2 separate regions of the Homo sapiens genome follow, and region 1 is linked to region 2. The links come from fine-mapping of genetic effects on gene expression. Tissue or cell type: whole blood. Region 2 holds a variant in brackets; the other region holds the start of a gene. All regions are shown on one strand. Distances are from middle to middle.

The links. PIP is the estimated chance that this variant, and not a neighbour inherited with it, causes the effect.
Region 1: BEST1 starts here. The variant in region 2 is fine-mapped to the expression of BEST1 in whole blood (TOPMed, PIP above 0.99).

What each region holds. Positions count from the first base shown.
Region 1 is chr11:61,946,059-61,954,160 of GRCh38, forward strand. It overlaps BEST1 (bestrophin 1), which reads left to right and starts at 4,293. Exons shown (of 11, transcript NM_004183.4): 1 at 4,293-4,369; 2 at 5,713-5,900. The coding sequence starts at 5,749. LOC107984334 (a long non-coding RNA gene) reads right to left here. Exons shown (of 2, transcript XR_001748245.2): 2 at 7,861-8,102. It also overlaps a transcript of RAB3IL1 not described here. RefSeq lists a silencer at 1-154.
Region 2 is chr11:61,974,527-61,982,630 of GRCh38, forward strand. No RefSeq gene overlaps it. Among named protein-coding and RNA genes, the nearest start is that of FTH1, 11 kb to the left of the region's middle. RefSeq lists a silencer at 3,855-4,071. The variant G/A (reference allele first, on the strand shown) is at 3,955.

The DNA.
Region 1 (8,102 bases), 28 kb before region 2:
GTCTGGCTTCCGGGCCCTGGACTGGCAGTGTCCCCCAGCACCCCTGTCCAGCTATGCCAAGCCCCCTCCTTTTCTTTCTTGGCCTCTGCCCTATTTGTTCTGTGACTGGCCCAAGAGAGGGGTGTGGGCTGGCAGGTGTCCCACATAAAGCCTGGAGGCAGCATCCAGGCCTGGCTGACTTACCCCGGGGCCCCCTGCCTACTGCCCCCAGCCAAGCTGGGTCTCCTTCTTCCTGCCCAGCTGAGGCAGGGCCTAGAAGGGCACCGAGGCAGGCCCTCTGTGATGCTCCTGTTGCTATGGTAATTCTAGATGAGAAGGCCATAGCATTCTGTGTCTGGCACCCCCGCGCATCTCCCCAGCTCTGCCCTGCTGCCCCAAGAGATGGCTCTCTGCTGGGGAGCTCGAGAGCTTGGAATCTGCTGCAGTCAAAGTTTCTTCCATGCGGCCAGGCACAGTGGCTCATGCCTGCAATCCTAGCACTTTGGGAGGCCGAGGCGGGTGAATTACTTGAGGTCAGGAGTTCAAGACCAACCTGGCCAACATGGTGAAACCCCATCTCTACTAAAAATACAATACTTAGCCGGAAATCACTTGAACCCAGGAGGCAGATGTTGCAGTGAGCCAAGATCATGCCACTGCACTCCAGCCTGGGTAACAAAGCGAGACTCCGTCTCAAAAAAAAAAAAAAAGTATCTTTCATGCAGGCCCCATCCTTTGGACCTCCCTTCAACCCCAAGAGAGACCACTACCCTAGCAGGTAAGACTCTACCTCTCAGAAACTGACCTTTACTGTAGAGCTGATAGTGGGAAAGGGCTCAGGATCCAAAATCAAAAGACCTAGATCCTAGTCTCAAGCCATTTATAGCTGTGTGACCTTGGACAAGGCAGGCCTTGAGCTTCAGTGTCCTCCTTTGTAAAATGTGGATAAACATGCGATACTGAATCATCCTTCAGGAATAGCTCTATGACTTTCCGTAGGTTGTTCCCCTGATGTGTAATGCTCTTCCATTCTTCTCAGCTCCATGAACTCCTACTCATGCTTCAAGACCCAACCGAAATGCCCCATTGTCTGTAAAAATTTCCCTGACCTCTGTGCACTTGGCACAGATCTTAGGCCTTGCCATTCTGTGTTAGAGTTGTTATTTAAGTGTTTCCAAATTTTTTGACTATGAATACGTACAGGCAGGAATCAGATTAGGCTCAGTTCTGGAAGGAGAAATGGTTTGGCGAATATTTTCTTTGCGGAACGGAAAGCAGAAGAGGGCGACCTTGACTGGGTTGGGTGCCATCTCTGCAGGGGTCAATCCTGGGACTCTTGTTCCAGGCATGGCTTGGGTCAATCAGCACTCATGACTTTGCTGTGTGCCTGAGCCGTGCCTGGCTAACTGGGGACATTTTCATAGCTGAGACCCAGTAGGAGAGACCATGACTTGTGCCAGGGTGTGCCTGTCTCAGCTCTGGGGCAGGGCCAGGAGCAGCTGCTCATGGGATGTCTCTGGGGACATGCTGGGGCCTCTGGGAGGGGAAGGGAGACTGGCCATGCACTGTCTATGGTCCTGGTGGTACTCCTGGGATATTGCCAAGGAGCCTGCGGTTCAGGGAACAGGGAGGAGGGACTCTAGTGTCTCCAACTCCCTCTCATGGCTCTATGGCTGCTGGTCGGGGTCAGGGAGATGAAGCAGTGCCAGCTCCGTGGTCTGCACTGATCCTGACCAGTGAACCAGGCTTCCCCAGCCAGAGCCAGCTAGTCAAGCACGCTCTCTAGTGGCCACCACAGGGAAGGCAAGAACTTGTCTCCACAAAGGCAGGATTTTCATTTATTCCTTCAGAGAGTACAGAATGAGCATCAATGTTCCAGGCATGGTGCCAGGCATGTGTGTTAACTTTAGTTAAAACATACTTATTGGCCGAGTGTGGCGGCTCACTCCTGTAATCCCACCACTTTGGGAGGCCTAGGTGGGAGGACTGCTTGAACTTAGAGCTCAATACCAGCCTGGGTAATGTAGTGAGACCCTATCTCTATAAAAAAAAAAAAAATAGCTGGGTGTGGTGGTGTGCGTCTGTAGTCCCAGCGACTTGGGAGGCTGAGATGGGAGGATTGCTTGAGCCTGGGAAGTGGAGGTTGCAATGAGCCAAAATCACACCCATTGCACTCCAGCCTGGGTGACCTTGTCTCAAAAATATAGTTATATATTTACTTATATATTTATATGTATAAATATATGTGTACATACAAATATATTTGTAATATTATAGACATATTAATACATATTTACATATGTTAATATATAAATATATATAATATATATTTATCATCTTCTAAATGGAAAGCTCTTGAGTTTCAGGATGTGTTGGTTGGGAAGGGAATACAGGATAGGGAAATAATCCATTAAGCAATGACTCAGCACAGGCCATAAAATCAGAATCACCTGGAGAACTTGAACAATCCCAACACCTGGGGTCCATCCAGACCAATCAAATCAGAATTCGTAGGGGTCAGGCACAGGCACCAGTGGTTTGGAGAGTTGACGGACACATGTCCCATCCATCATTCTCATTCGGCTGCCAAGGTAGGCATCGTTGTCCCATTTTGCATATGAGGAGACTGAGGCTGAAGTGAACCTGCTTCTTTCCCCATATCAGTTGAGGACAGCGATGGGGCAGCGGGGAGGCAGTAAATACTCCTACAAGGCTGCCTCTAAAGAGAGTCTTATAATAACAACAGCTTTATTGTTTGCCATGATTAGAAAAGTATTCAAGGTCATTGCGAAATAGTGTTTTTTTTTCTAGGCAGATAATTATATAAAGGCAAAAATGGTGTGTGGGGGTGGGGGACAAGGGGAGGGAGAGCATTAGGACAAATACCTAATGCACGCAAGGCTTAAAACCTAGATGATGGGTTGACAGGTGCAGCAAACCACCATGGCACACGTATACCTATGTAACAAACCTGCACATCATGTATACCTATGTAACAAACCTGTACATTCTGCACACGTATCCCAGAACTTAAAGTGAAAAAAAAAGTGGTGTGTAGAAAAATCACCTGCAATCTCAGCATAGTTAACGCTTAGTACATTTCAGAGAGAGAGGGTGACAGGAAAGGGAGGATGAGAGTGGGTTTAAGACACAAGGTCATATTATAAAATCAGGGCTTCTGGAAGTTTAGTCCCAAAACCACACATCTCATAATCCCCTGCAGTGCTTGATTAAAATGCAACATCCCTAAGGCCACAGACTCAGACTCTGGAGAAAGATCCAGAAAACTGCCCGTTTAATAAACATTTGGGCGATTCTTACGGCCTCTAAAGACCAAGAACCACTGCTGCCTAGAGCTCTGCTCTCTTCATTGAACAATACAAGAGGAGTGTGTAGGTAGACACCCACCACTTCCAACAGCTTAGGAGAGCCCTTGAGTATGGATTGATGTATTAAAATTTATTGAATCACATGCTGAGATTTTCACCAGCTGCCCGTGGGGATCTGGGCATTTATTCCCATATTGCACTGGCTGGCTGGAAGCCAGCAGCATAAACTCCAGGGCTGTTCTGTCAACCCCCACCAGACTCACCCCCCTCCACCAGCCCCGGCAGGCTTCTCCTTCCATCTCTCTGAAGCAACTTACTGATGGGCCCTGCCAGCCAATCACAGCCAGAATAACGTATGATGTCACCAGCAGCCAATCAGAGCTCCTCGTCAGCATATGCAGAATTCTGTCATTTTACTAGGGTGATGAAATTCCCAAGCAACACCATCCTTTTCAGATAAGGGCACTGAGGCTGAGAGAGGAGCTGAAACCTACCCGGGGTCACCACACACAGGTGGCAAGGCTGGGACCAGAAACCAGGACTGTTGACTGCAGCCCGGTATTCATTCTTTCCATAGCCCACAGGGCTGTCAAAGACCCCAGGGCCTAGTCAGAGGCTCCTCCTTCCTGGAGAGTTCCTGGCACAGAAGTTGAAGCTCAGCACAGCCCCCTAACCCCCAACTCTCTCTGCAAGGCCTCAGGGGTCAGAACACTGGTGGAGCAGATCCTTTAGCCTCTGGATTTTAGGGCCATGGTAGAGGGGGTGTTGCCCTAAATTCCAGCCCTGGTCTCAGCCCAACACCCTCCAAGAAGAAATTAGAGGGGCCATGGCCAGGCTGTGCTAGCCGTTGCTTCTGAGCAGATTACAAGAAGGGACTAAGACAAGGACTCCTTTGTGGAGGTCCTGGCTTAGGGAGTCAAGTGACGGCGGCTCAGCACTCACGTGGGCAGTGCCAGCCTCTAAGAGTGGGCAGGGGCACTGGCCACAGAGTCCCAGGGAGTCCCACCAGCCTAGTCGCCAGACCTTCTGTGGGATCATCGGACCCACCTGGAACCCCACCTGTGAGTACAAGGTGCCCCAGGTGGACTGGGCTGGGGCTTTGAGGCCTTCAGGGTTGGATGGCCATCTTGCGTATTTGTGTGGGATATGCACACACAGGCAGCACATGCGCAGGTGTGTGGGCACCTGTGTGTCTGTGCAAATGCCCTGAGGTGGGAATGAGCTTGGTGTGCATCAGGCACAGCCAGCCAGTGTGGCTGCAGCAAAACACACAGGGAAAGAATGGAGGGGGCATCAATCACTGCTTCAGTAAATTTTTATTGAGCGCCTTCTACGAGAACACAAGAGGAGCTTCCATTCTGAGGAGGAAACAGGCAGGAAACAGGCAGATATCCTGTATAATTTCAAGTAGTGATAAGTGCTCTCTAGAAATATCAAGCAAGGTGAGGAGACACAGAGCACCGGTGGCAGTGGGGCTCTATTTCCAGGTTGGATGGTTGGGAACATCCTTTCTAAAGGGAACCTGGAGTGGGAAGGAACCATGCAGGTATCTCAGGAAGAGCTTCCTCCAGGCAGGAAGATCAGCAGGTGGAAAGGCCCTGGAGCCACCATTCAGTAAACATCATTTGAGCATCTCTACCAGCTAGGTTCCATTATGGGAATGGGAATATGGTGGTGGACAGGGCTGCCTGGTCCCTTCCATACTTCTCACACTAGGGTGGTTGAGAGAGCTTGGGAGCTAACGAACAAGATGGGCTGAGAACACTGCCTAGCCCAGAGGACCTGAGCTTAGTGTGTAGACATTGCTGCTGTTACTGCCTTTGTCATTGTATTATTTATTTATTTATTTATTTATTTTTAGACAGAGTTTTGCTCTTCTTACCCAGGCTGGAGTGCAATGGCGTGATCTCAGCTCACTGCAACCTCCACCTCCTGGGTTCAAGCGATTCTCCTGCCTCAGCCTCCTGAGTAGCTGGGATTACAGGCACCCGCACCACGCCTGGATAATTTTTTTGTATTTTTAGTAGAGACAGGGTTTCACCATGTTGGCCAGGCTGGTCTCGAACTCCTGACCTTAGGTGATCCACCTGCCTCGACTTCCCAAAGTGCTGGGATTATAGGCATGAGCCACTGCGCCCAGTGATTATAGAAAGTTAAAGGCACATGGCAATGCACACGCCTATCTACGTCTTCCCTGCCAAAGCAAAGGGCAGCCTCTGGGCTCACTTTCTTGCGTTTCTACTTCCAAAAGGCAGTCAGAACTGGCAGGGCCTTGGAGACCACTTCATCCACCTCCTAGGGTCCCTATGGGAGAGTTGAGGTCCAGAGCAGGGAAGGGTCCTGACAGGCTCTGACCAGGGCCTCTGATCCCTACAAACCCCCAATCGGTGTCCCTCTCTACCAGGACCCAAGCCCACCTGCTGCAGCCCACTGCCTGGCCATGACCATCACTTACACAAGCCAAGTGGCTAATGCCCGCTTAGGCTCCTTCTCCCGCCTGCTGCTGTGCTGGCGGGGCAGCATCTACAAGCTGCTATATGGCGAGTTCTTAATCTTCCTGCTCTGCTACTACATCATCCGCTTTATTTATAGGTAAAGCTGGCAGGGCTGGGCCGGGGGGCCTGGGAAGGATGTGGCTGGGGCTGGGAGCTCCTGGGGGCCTCCCAGCCAGCTCAGGGGCCAGTGTACCAGTTCACTACAAGACTAAGCTGAGCTCCTGACCAGGTCCTGGGCACTGGAGCTGAGGCTGGGGCTGGGGGCTGGGGAGAGAAAAGAAGTCAGACTGAGAGGCTGCTCAAGCCAGGCCAGCAGGGTTTTAGCCACCCTTCCTCCAACCCCAGGAGGACCCCTGGAGCCCAGGCTTTGTCTGGCCCCACTCAACTGGCCTGTTTTACTGAATCCCACACAGACTCATAGGCCCACATAGTACATTAAAAAAGAGAGAGAGAGAGAGAGAGAGAGAGAGAGATGGAGTCTCACTGTGTTGTCCAGGCTGGTCTCGAACTCCTAGGCTCAAGCAATCCCCCTGCCTTAGCCTCCCAAGGGGCTGGGATTACAGGTGTGAGCTACTGCACTTGACCAACCACATGGTACTTTTTTTTTTTTTTTTTTTTTTTTGAGACAGGGTTTCACTCCATCACCCAGGCTGGAGTGCAGTGGGGGCAATCTTGGCTCACTGTAACCTCTGCCTCCCAGGTGCAAGCGATTCTCCTGCCTTAGCCTCCTGAGTAGCTGGAATTATAGGCACACACCACCACGCCTGGCTAATTTTTTTTTTTTTCTGTATTTTTAGTAGAGACAGGGTTTCATCATGTTGGCCAGGCTGGTCTTGAACCCCTGACCTCAAGTGATCCACCCACCTCGGCCTCCCAAAGTGCTGGGATTACAGGTGTCAGCCACCATGCACAGCCCACATGGTACATTTTTTAAAATTATTTTTTAATTAAAATGTTTATCTAAGGCCAGTAGCAGTGACTCGCGTCTGTAATCCCAGCACTTTGAGGGGCCAAGGTGCGGGGATCACTTGAGCCTGGGAGTTCAGCGTGGGCAACATAGTGAGACCCCGTCTCTACCAAAAATTTAAAAAATTAGCTGGGAGTGGTGGCATTTGCCTGTGGTCCCAGCTACTTGGGAAGCTGAGGTGTGGGGATGGCTGAAGCCTGTGAGGTCGAGGCTGCAGTGAGCTATGATCACACCACTGCACTTCAGCCTGAGTGACAGGCTATCTCAAAAGCAAACAAAATAATGTTTATCTAAACAATAAAATATAATCACAGAATATATGATAGCATTTTAAATTGAAAAAGCATTAATGATTACATGGATTGTAAAATATCAAATACATGAAATTCTTGTGTTCTTAATAATGCTAGCAACAAGGCACATTTGGTTTTTACTAGGGCACCAAGGTACTTTAAAAAAAGTTAGGGCCAGCCACAGGGGCTCACACCTGTAATCCCAGCACTTTGGGAGGCCAAGGCAGGAGGATCACTTGAGCCCAGGAGTTTAGGACCTGAGCAACATAGGGAGATCCTGATCCTGTCTCTATAAAAAATTAAAAAATTGGCTAGGCCCTTTGGCTTACACCCGTAATCCCAGCACTTTGGGAGGCCGAGGCGGGTGGATCATGAGGTCAGGAGTTCAAGACCAGCCTGGCCAACATAGTGAACCCAATCTCTACTAAAAATACAAAAATTAGCCGAGTGGGGTGGCACGCACCTGTAGTTCCAGCTACTCAGGAGGATGAGGCCGGAGAATCGCTTGAGCCCGGGAGGCAGAGGTTGCAGTGAGCCGAGACCATGCCATTGCACTCCAGCCTAGGTGACAGAGTGAGACTCCGTCTAAAAATAAAATAAAAATCAAAAAATGATCTGGGCATGGTGGCTTATGCCTGTAGTCCCACCCAGCTCCTCAGGAGGCTGAAGCGGGAGGATTGCTTGAGCCCAGGAGGTTGAGGCTGCAGTGAGTCATGACTGTGCCACTGCCCTTGAGCCTGGGTAACAGAGCAAGACCCTATCTCAAAACAAACAAACAAACAAACAAACAAACAAAAACCAATAAACCAAAAACATTTATCTAAACAATAAAATAAAGGACAGATATAATCACCGAATATATGATAGCATTTTAAATTGAAAAAGCACTAATGACTACAATGGATTATAAAACATCAAATACATAAAATTCTTAAGTTCCTCCTAATACCAAATACAAAGCACATTGGTCTTTGGTTTTTACTTGGGCACTAATGCATGCTGAAAAAGAGTCAGACTTCATTTTTTAGAGTAGTTTTAG
Region 2 (8,104 bases):
ATGGCACAGGCCTGTAGTCCCAGCTATTCAGGAGGCTGAGGGAGGAGGATTGCTTGAGCCCAGGAGTTTGAGACCAGCCTGGGTGACATAGCAAGTCCCTCTCTCTCCAAAAAAAAACACAAAAATTAGCCGGGTATGATGGCACAGGCCTGTAGTCCCAGCTATTCAGGAGGCTGAGGGAAGAGGATTGCTTGAGCCCAGGAGTTTGAGACCAGCCTGGGTGACATAGCAAGTCCCTCTCTCTCCAAAAAAAAAAAAACACAAAAATTAGCCGGGTATGATGGCACAGGCCTGTAGTCCCAGCTATTCAGGAGGCTGAGGGAGGAGGATTGCTTGAGCCCAGGAATTCGAAGCTGCAGTCAGCAATGATTGTGCCACTGCACTCCAGCCTGGGCGACAGAGCCAAACCTTGTCTCTAAAAAAAATAAAAAATAAAATAAAACTCCTTAAGTGCTCTCCACTGCCCTTGGGATATAATTGTAATTCCAGGGTATGGCCCAGCCACTCACCCCCAGGCTTCTCTCTAGCCCTCCAGGGTTCCCCTCACACCTTGGGACTTGGCACAGCTGTTTGATCTGCCCAGACGGCCTGCCCCTCACTCTTCTGCATGAAAAAGTACCCAGCCTTCAACACCGGGCTCAAATATGCTCCCAAAGCTCCCTGCACTGCCCCGCAGAGCTGAGAATTTCCATTCTTTGTGCCCTCCAGCACTCCGAGCGCGTGGTCTCCACTGCCACGCAGTATTACAGTGACCTGCTCCATACCCACCTCCCCCACAGCAAGGGAACCTCTGCCCTGTTTATCTTGGCCATGCCTTTGCCTTTCCCACCTCAGCACCTGGCAAAGTACTCACAGTTTCACAGGCTCCCAGACTACCGACAAATATGGGCTGGATTTAACTTGGACTTAGCTCTTAGCCCAACTCTTATTCATCTTTCCTGTTGCTGAGCGTTAGGCTGCCCCACCACTACCCCGTGCCTCATAGGTTTTTTGTTTTTTTGACAGTCTTGCTGTGTTACCTAGGCTGGAGTGCAGTGGGGCCATCTCAGCTCACTACAACCTCTGCCTCCCGGGTTCAAGTGATTCTCCTACCTCAGCCTCCTGAGTAACTGGGATTACAGGCATGCACCACCATGCCCAGCGAATTGTTGTATTTTTAGTAGAACAGGGTTTTGCCATTTTGCTCATGCTGGTCTCGAAGTGCGGCCTCAAACAATCCGCCCACCTCAGCCTCCCAAAATGCTGGCGTGAGCCACTGGGCCCGGCCAGGTTTGGTTTTTCCATCTTTACTTAATTAAGACTACCAGCTGTTTCTACCTCCCGTATGGAAGATGCTGGGAATTGGTGAGTCTTTCTGGGGTTTCAGGATTATTCCTAGGCAGAGACCTGAAGACACTGTGAGGCAGTCGGGGCTGGGACCAGCGCGGCCATGGGGATGGAGATGTCACAGTCACAGGCTCTGTGGCTCTGAGGACCAATTCCTGTGGCTTGCTTTTGTGGCCACAGAGTGTTTCCTCAACTGGAGGAATCTGTGGGCTGTCACTAGGGACCAATGTGGGAGGAAAGCAAGAAGGGTTGGTATAAAAATCAGCTTGCTACTACAAAACAATGTCCTATCCTTCCTGGCGGTGGGCCAGTGCATTGTTGGAGTTTTCATTCCATAAAATAACAGATTTTTACATAAAGTAAGTTGACACCTTCGGGGCTGACACTGACAGCACCTCTGAGTAGGTAGGGCAGGTAGCCCGTGCTGGCAGCAGAGGTTTCCTTTATCCAGTGAGGAAACTGGAAGTCAGAGAGGTTAAGAGACGGCCTTGCCTAAGATTGCGCAGCTGGTAAGAGACAGGGCTCTGACCAGAATCTGGACTCTGATTGTGGTGCAATTTTCTGAATCTGGTGCCCTGACACAGCCATGACGGCAATTCTTAAACTCAGCACATACATTACCCTTAATCTCGAAGCATGCAGGAAGAAGAGCTCCAAGATTCCACTTGCTGAGGCTTCTGAAATATCCCTGCAGGTGGAGAGCACTTCCTGCAGCCCTGAATCCTGAAGGCGAGCCAGCACCCAACTTCGGTGGGCTTCAAGCCACTGGAGTTGGCCGAGGGTGCTTTCAAAGTAGTTGCTGTGATTCTACCAGCAGCAAAGCTGTCACGGGTGATCTTTGAAATTAATGGGCTGATTTGATTAGTAACTGAAGTCTGTTTGCTTGGTGGGAGTTTTGTGGTTCTTTGGATGGCACTCTTGGGGATCTCGTGGCAGGGCTTAGCGAATTGGACTTGGTCTTGAGTTATCTGGACTTGGTGCTAATGGCTGGCAGGCCCAGGAGATGCCTGGGCAGCCCGTAGACTGGGGCTATCCAGTGGCATTCTGAGCAGGGCAGTGGGTCTCGGCCCACATGGGAGAGCTAAGGGTATTTCTGGAGCATGTAATTCCCAGGGACCATGGCTGGCTCCTCAGACCCCCATTACTCCCACTGTGCTTGGCTGGTCCTCCCAGGGGCTGGGGGCCTCTGCTCAGCCACAAGACACACCATATTAGGGAGTGGTGGGAGATGCTTCCCTGAGGGTCTCATGGTACCTCCTTCGTATGTAGGATCTGAGAACCATATAAACTTGCCTAAAAGAGTCTCGGGGCCTCTGGAGCTGAAGCTGTTCACATGCCGGGAAGCATAGGATGACCCACCTCCAAACTGGGGCAACACCAGCTCCTCCCCTGGGGCCTTAGCCCACCCTTGGTTTTCTGTGCGGAGGGCTCACCCACCTTTCTGACAAAGCTTCTGATGGCTCAGAAGCCAGTTGGCCTGAGTCAGAGCCAGGAGAGCCTTCCCATGGGAAGGGGCTTTACATGCTATTACCTTTCTCATCTGTTTCCAGCTGCACGGATGATATGCTAACCCCCTGTCAAACATCCCTGCCTTTTGTAATTCTTTGAAAGCATTAGTTGGAACCAAGTGGCTCTCGTTTTTCCCCACTATTTACTCACCTATCCAGCTGCCCTTTCAATATCGTGGGTGTGTATGTGGGTGGACAGGGGTGTGTATGTGTAGTGGCAGGAATCCGGATGTTTTGCTTTTTGCTTTTTTCTGGAATTGATTTCTCCAGATCCATACCTACTCCCCAATATCCACCTGTCTTCTGGACACTAGATCCAGATTTTCCTCTGGGGAACTATTTCCCTCCCTCCAACCTCTGTGATGTGCTATAATTGGAACTGCCTCCATCCCTAGATTCAGGGATAGACATGTTTTGTTTTACTTGCAACAGATTTTTCAGTCAACTTACCTTTTATATCAGGGGTCCCCAACCCCTGGTCCATAGACTGGTACCGAAGGTGCATAGACTGTGCACCTCCAGGCTGCATGGCAGGAGGTGAGCAGTGGGTGAATGAACATTACCTCCAAGCTCTGCCTGCTGGTTATCCCAGCTCTGCCTCCTGTCAGATCAGCAGTGGCATTAGCTTCTCATAGGAGTGTGAACCCTACGGTGAACTGCACGTGACAGGGATCTAGGTTGTGCGCTCCTTATGAGAACCTAACTAATGCCTGATGATCTGAGGTGGAACAGTTTCATCCTGAAACCATCTCCCTCCCCCACCCCTTGTCCATGGAAAAAATTGTCTTCCACAAAACCGGTGCCTGGTGTCAAAAAGGCTGGGGACCACTGTTTTACATCATCTAAATGGCAACTGATTCCTGCATGGGTCTCAGAATTTTCAAGACAGGAAGGAGCCTTTGAGACTATCTAATACTTTCAATCACTCAACTAATGTTTTTATTTTGTTATTATTTTTTTAAAAATAGAGACAGGGTCTCAACTCTGTCACCGAGGCTGGAGTGCAGTAGCACGATCGTAGCTCACTGCAGCCACCAACTCCTGGGCTCAAGTAGTCCTCCCACCTCAGCCTCCTGAGTAGCTGGGATTACAGGTGCATGCCACTACACCTGGCTAATTA[G/A]AGCAATTTTTGATGGGGTCTCACTATATTGCCCAGGCTGGTCCCAAACTCCTGACCTCCAAAGATCCTCCTGCCTCAGCCTCCCCAAAGCTTGGGATTACAGGCCTGAGCCACTGCACTTGGCTTCAAACATTTTTAAATGCCAGCTCTATGCCAGTCCTTGGGTTAGATGAAGAAAATGATATCTGGGGCTGGGGATTTGGGGTGACCAGATCAGGGTTACAGGGAAAGTCGGTGGCTGAGCCAAGGACCAAAACCTAGGCCTTCTGACTCCCACACCAGCCTTCTTTCCTCATGCTTCTCTGCTTCCTGAGATTAAATTCTTCTGGCAGTGCTCAAGTACGGTTATGTGATTATGAAAAAACACAGGGAACTCTGTGCCAAGCAGCTATCATTGGTTTCCTGGGCAGGGTTGCAGAGAAAGAGGAGAAGGACAAAGGAACTTCTCCCACCCCTGTGTGCCAGCCTCAGCTCTCTGGCGGGGGGCAAAACAGGCTCGTGGGGCTGCCTGAGGGCTTGTCCTCTGGTGTCCCTCCTCTGGGCCCCAACAGTCCTCTGCTTCATCCACACCAGCCCCTGGGGTGCCCCACCGCACCCCTGGTCCCCCGCCTCTGTCCTTTGTTGAAGTCTTTCCTCCCCTAGCTGTTCACTTTTATCTATCAAAGATCCACCCTTTCTCCAAGCTGCAGTCCAGATCCTGCCTCTGCCGAGAAGTCTTCCTGGATTCAGAGCTTGTCTCTTATTCCTGCTAATGTTTATTCCTTCGGCCTTTACTGAGTGACAGGAGGCCCTGTGCCATTGCATCATCATAGGGGAGGCTCGTAGGAAGGCATCATAGGAGGCTTGTAGGAAGCTGGTCTTCATCTCTGCTCCCAGGAATGGGACCAGGCCCTGGCACCTGGCAGGGCCTCAGCTAAGACTCTGGTTGGATGTGATTGAATCATCGTGAGAAAGGGGAATCCTTGCCCTGCTGGGGGGCGAAACGGGGGGTAAAGTTAGGACCCCCTGCCCTGCCCCATCTCACAAGCGTTGTGAAAAGGTCTTGAGCTTTGTCTGACTGGGTCTCGCTTGAGCCAGTACTGCCCCGTGAGAGATGGTTCTTTGCACTTAACTCCAGGTAACGGAGGGCCCATCCTGCAGTTTCCCCTTAAGAGCCTGGAATGGGAGCCTCGGGAGTTGGAACTGGTCTCTGGAGTTTGCCTTAAGCCCAACCAGCTTGGTCAGCTCTTTAGCCCAAAACTCCTGTATTCCAAGGGCAGGGGTCCTCAGGCCCAAGCTCCACCCAGCTGGGTGGGTTAGACTCAGACTCTTTTCTTAAAAATGAATCAAGTAAGAATAAAAACTAATACTTATTAATAAAAGCAGATACTTCTTGACCCCTTACTACATAGGCCAAACATGTCATTCGACAGATGAGGAAACTGAAGCACAGAACTACAAAGTACCTTGCCCAAGGACACACACCTGCTGTTCCAGTCCAGAGCCCACACTCTGAACCGCTCCTTGTCCCCACCCACTGCCCAGATCATTCGGCTCCATCCTGTTATCCACTTGTCATTCCACTGTTTGCCCATGGTGCCTCCCATATGGGGATTTAGTAAATGCTTATCAAATGGGGGTGCTTATTGAATTTGAGATTTCTGTTTGTTTACCAGGTTATCCCTAGCAAGGCATGGAGGGAATAAGGGGGAACAACAAAAATGCTGGATGCTGGGCTGGGCGCGGTGGCTCGCGCCTGTAATCCCAGCACTTTGAGAGGCTGAGGCGGGCGGATCACCTGAGGTCAGGAGTTTGAGACTAGACTGGCGAACATGGTGAAACCCCGTTTCTACTAAAAATACAAAATTAGACGTGGCGGCATGCACCTGTAACCCCAGCTACACGGGAGGCTGAGGCAGGAGAATCGCTTGAACCCACGAGGCGGAGGTTGCGGTGAGTTGAGATCGCACCATTGCACTGCACCCTGGGCAAAAAGAGTGAAACTCCGTCTCAAAAAAATAAATAAATAAAAATGCTGGATGCTGCAGCTCTGTCTTGCTGTGTGATCAGTCCTTGGCACAGATATCCCACCCGAGCCAGGCTTCTTGCATGTCCTTACTCTCTGCCGTTCCCAGGGAAGGAGGATATTTCTGAAAAGGTCCTGAATTTCAGATGGGCTGTCATCACTGTCAGTGTTAGGATGGAAGGGCTGAGTGCAGTTGCCTCCAGACCAACCCCTGTGAAAAATACTCCAGGGAAAATCGCTCTGGAGAGACATGGCTTCTGAGATGGTGCCCTGGGTGGATGGAGGAGAGAGCTGGGAGGTCTCACATCAGTCGGGATGATTTTGCTTTCAAGCAACAAAACCCAACCCACAATAGATTAAGCAACAAGGGGGATTTATTGACTTGTGGAGTTGAAAAGCCCAGACGAGGTGGACTTTAGACGTGGTTCCATCAGGGCTCGGGCCCCGTTTCTCTGTGATTCTCTCAGATCCGCTCCCATCCACCGGGCTTCATCCTCTGGCTGTCTTCCAGCATCCTCCAGAGCTGCAGGCTTCCTTCTTCCAGGGGTAAAGTTAGGACCCCCTGCCCTGCCGCATCTCACAAGCATTGTGAAAAGGTCTTGAGCTTTGTCTGACTGGGTCTTGCTTGAGCCAGTACTGCCTCTTGGAGTGTCTAAATCTTAATGGTTGTTTAAGCAAATTAAGGAAATGGAGTTGATGAGCACTTCTGAATGGCATTGGGCCCCAGGGCTCACTGGAGACAGGAAGAGTTTTTACCAATTGCTCTCTGCTCTCGCTTGCTGGTGTCTGATTTTACCAGAGTACAGTGACCTCAGCTGGGACACTCAGGCCTGCACCATTCAGACTTCAGAGCTGTATGTGGATCTGTGTGAAGACCTCTAGGAGCCCAGCACTCAGATTTGGGAGGCCCCACTGCACATCAGGGCAAACACGTTAAAACATGCCCACATTCCACATGCAGCATTGTAACCAAAACACAGGTTCAGTTGCCTGCCACTTGCAGAGTCCAAATAATAAGAGTGAGGTCTGGTATAAGTAAAGTGACTTTTTATTTCAAAACTAGCTTAGGGGAAGAGGTACAGGCTTCTTACCTTAAGAGTACCACCTTGGGGCTGGGCGAGGTGGCTCAAGCCTGTAATCCCAGCACTTTGGGAGGCCAAGGCGGGTGGATCATCTTGGTCGGGAGTTCAAGACCAGCCTGACCAACATGGAGAAACCCCTTCTCTACTAAAAATACAAAATTAACCAGGCGTAGTGGCGCATGCCTGTAATCCCAGCTACTCGGGAGGCTGAGACAGGAGAGTCACATGAACCCAGGAGGCGGAGGTTGTGGTGAGCTGAGATCACGCCATTGCACTCCAGCCTGGCCCACAAGAGAAAAACTCTGTTTCAAAAACAATCAAAGCAAAACAAAGCAAAAACAAAAAAGGCTACCACTTTGGGCTGGGCGCAGTGGCTCATGCCTGTAATCCCAGCACTTTGGGAGGCACAGGCAGGCAGATCACCTGAGGTCAGGAGTTCGAGACAGCCTGGCCAACATGGTGAAACCCTATCTCTACTAAAAATACAAAAATTAGCCAGGCATGGTGGCAGGTGCCTATAATCCCAGCTACCCAGGAGGCTGAGGCAGGAGAATCACTTGAACCCAGGAGGCAGAGGTTGCTGTGAGCTGAGATCATGCCACTGTACTCAGTCTGGGCAACACAGCAAGACTCCTTCTAAAAAAAAAAAAAAGAGTATCACTTCACTTTTGGCGTGGAAGGTGGGTACTTTTAAAGGGTGCCTGGCACACAGACATGAATGGCACATGGGAGGAAGCAGGCAGGTGGGGGGCTGTGTACTTGCTTTGGTGCCTTATCTACCAGGTGGCCGAGAGTTGGCGTCTTTGAGGACAGAACTGGGTTGTGAAGGTGGCCAAAACTCTCCAGGTGGGAGAGAGTTTCATAGCAGGCATGCTTTGGGTTGTAAATGGACTGTTGTCTCTCAAGGCAGTCCCCTGGTGGGACAGAGTTCCACCCTGGAGCTTCTAAGCACGAAGTTAGATAAACTTGCCCTGTAGGGAGTGTCTGGTGAAGGGAAAGTGAAAGGTTATAACTGCATTTCTAAAGGGACAAGTGGGATGTAGATAATAGGGAAATAGAGGAA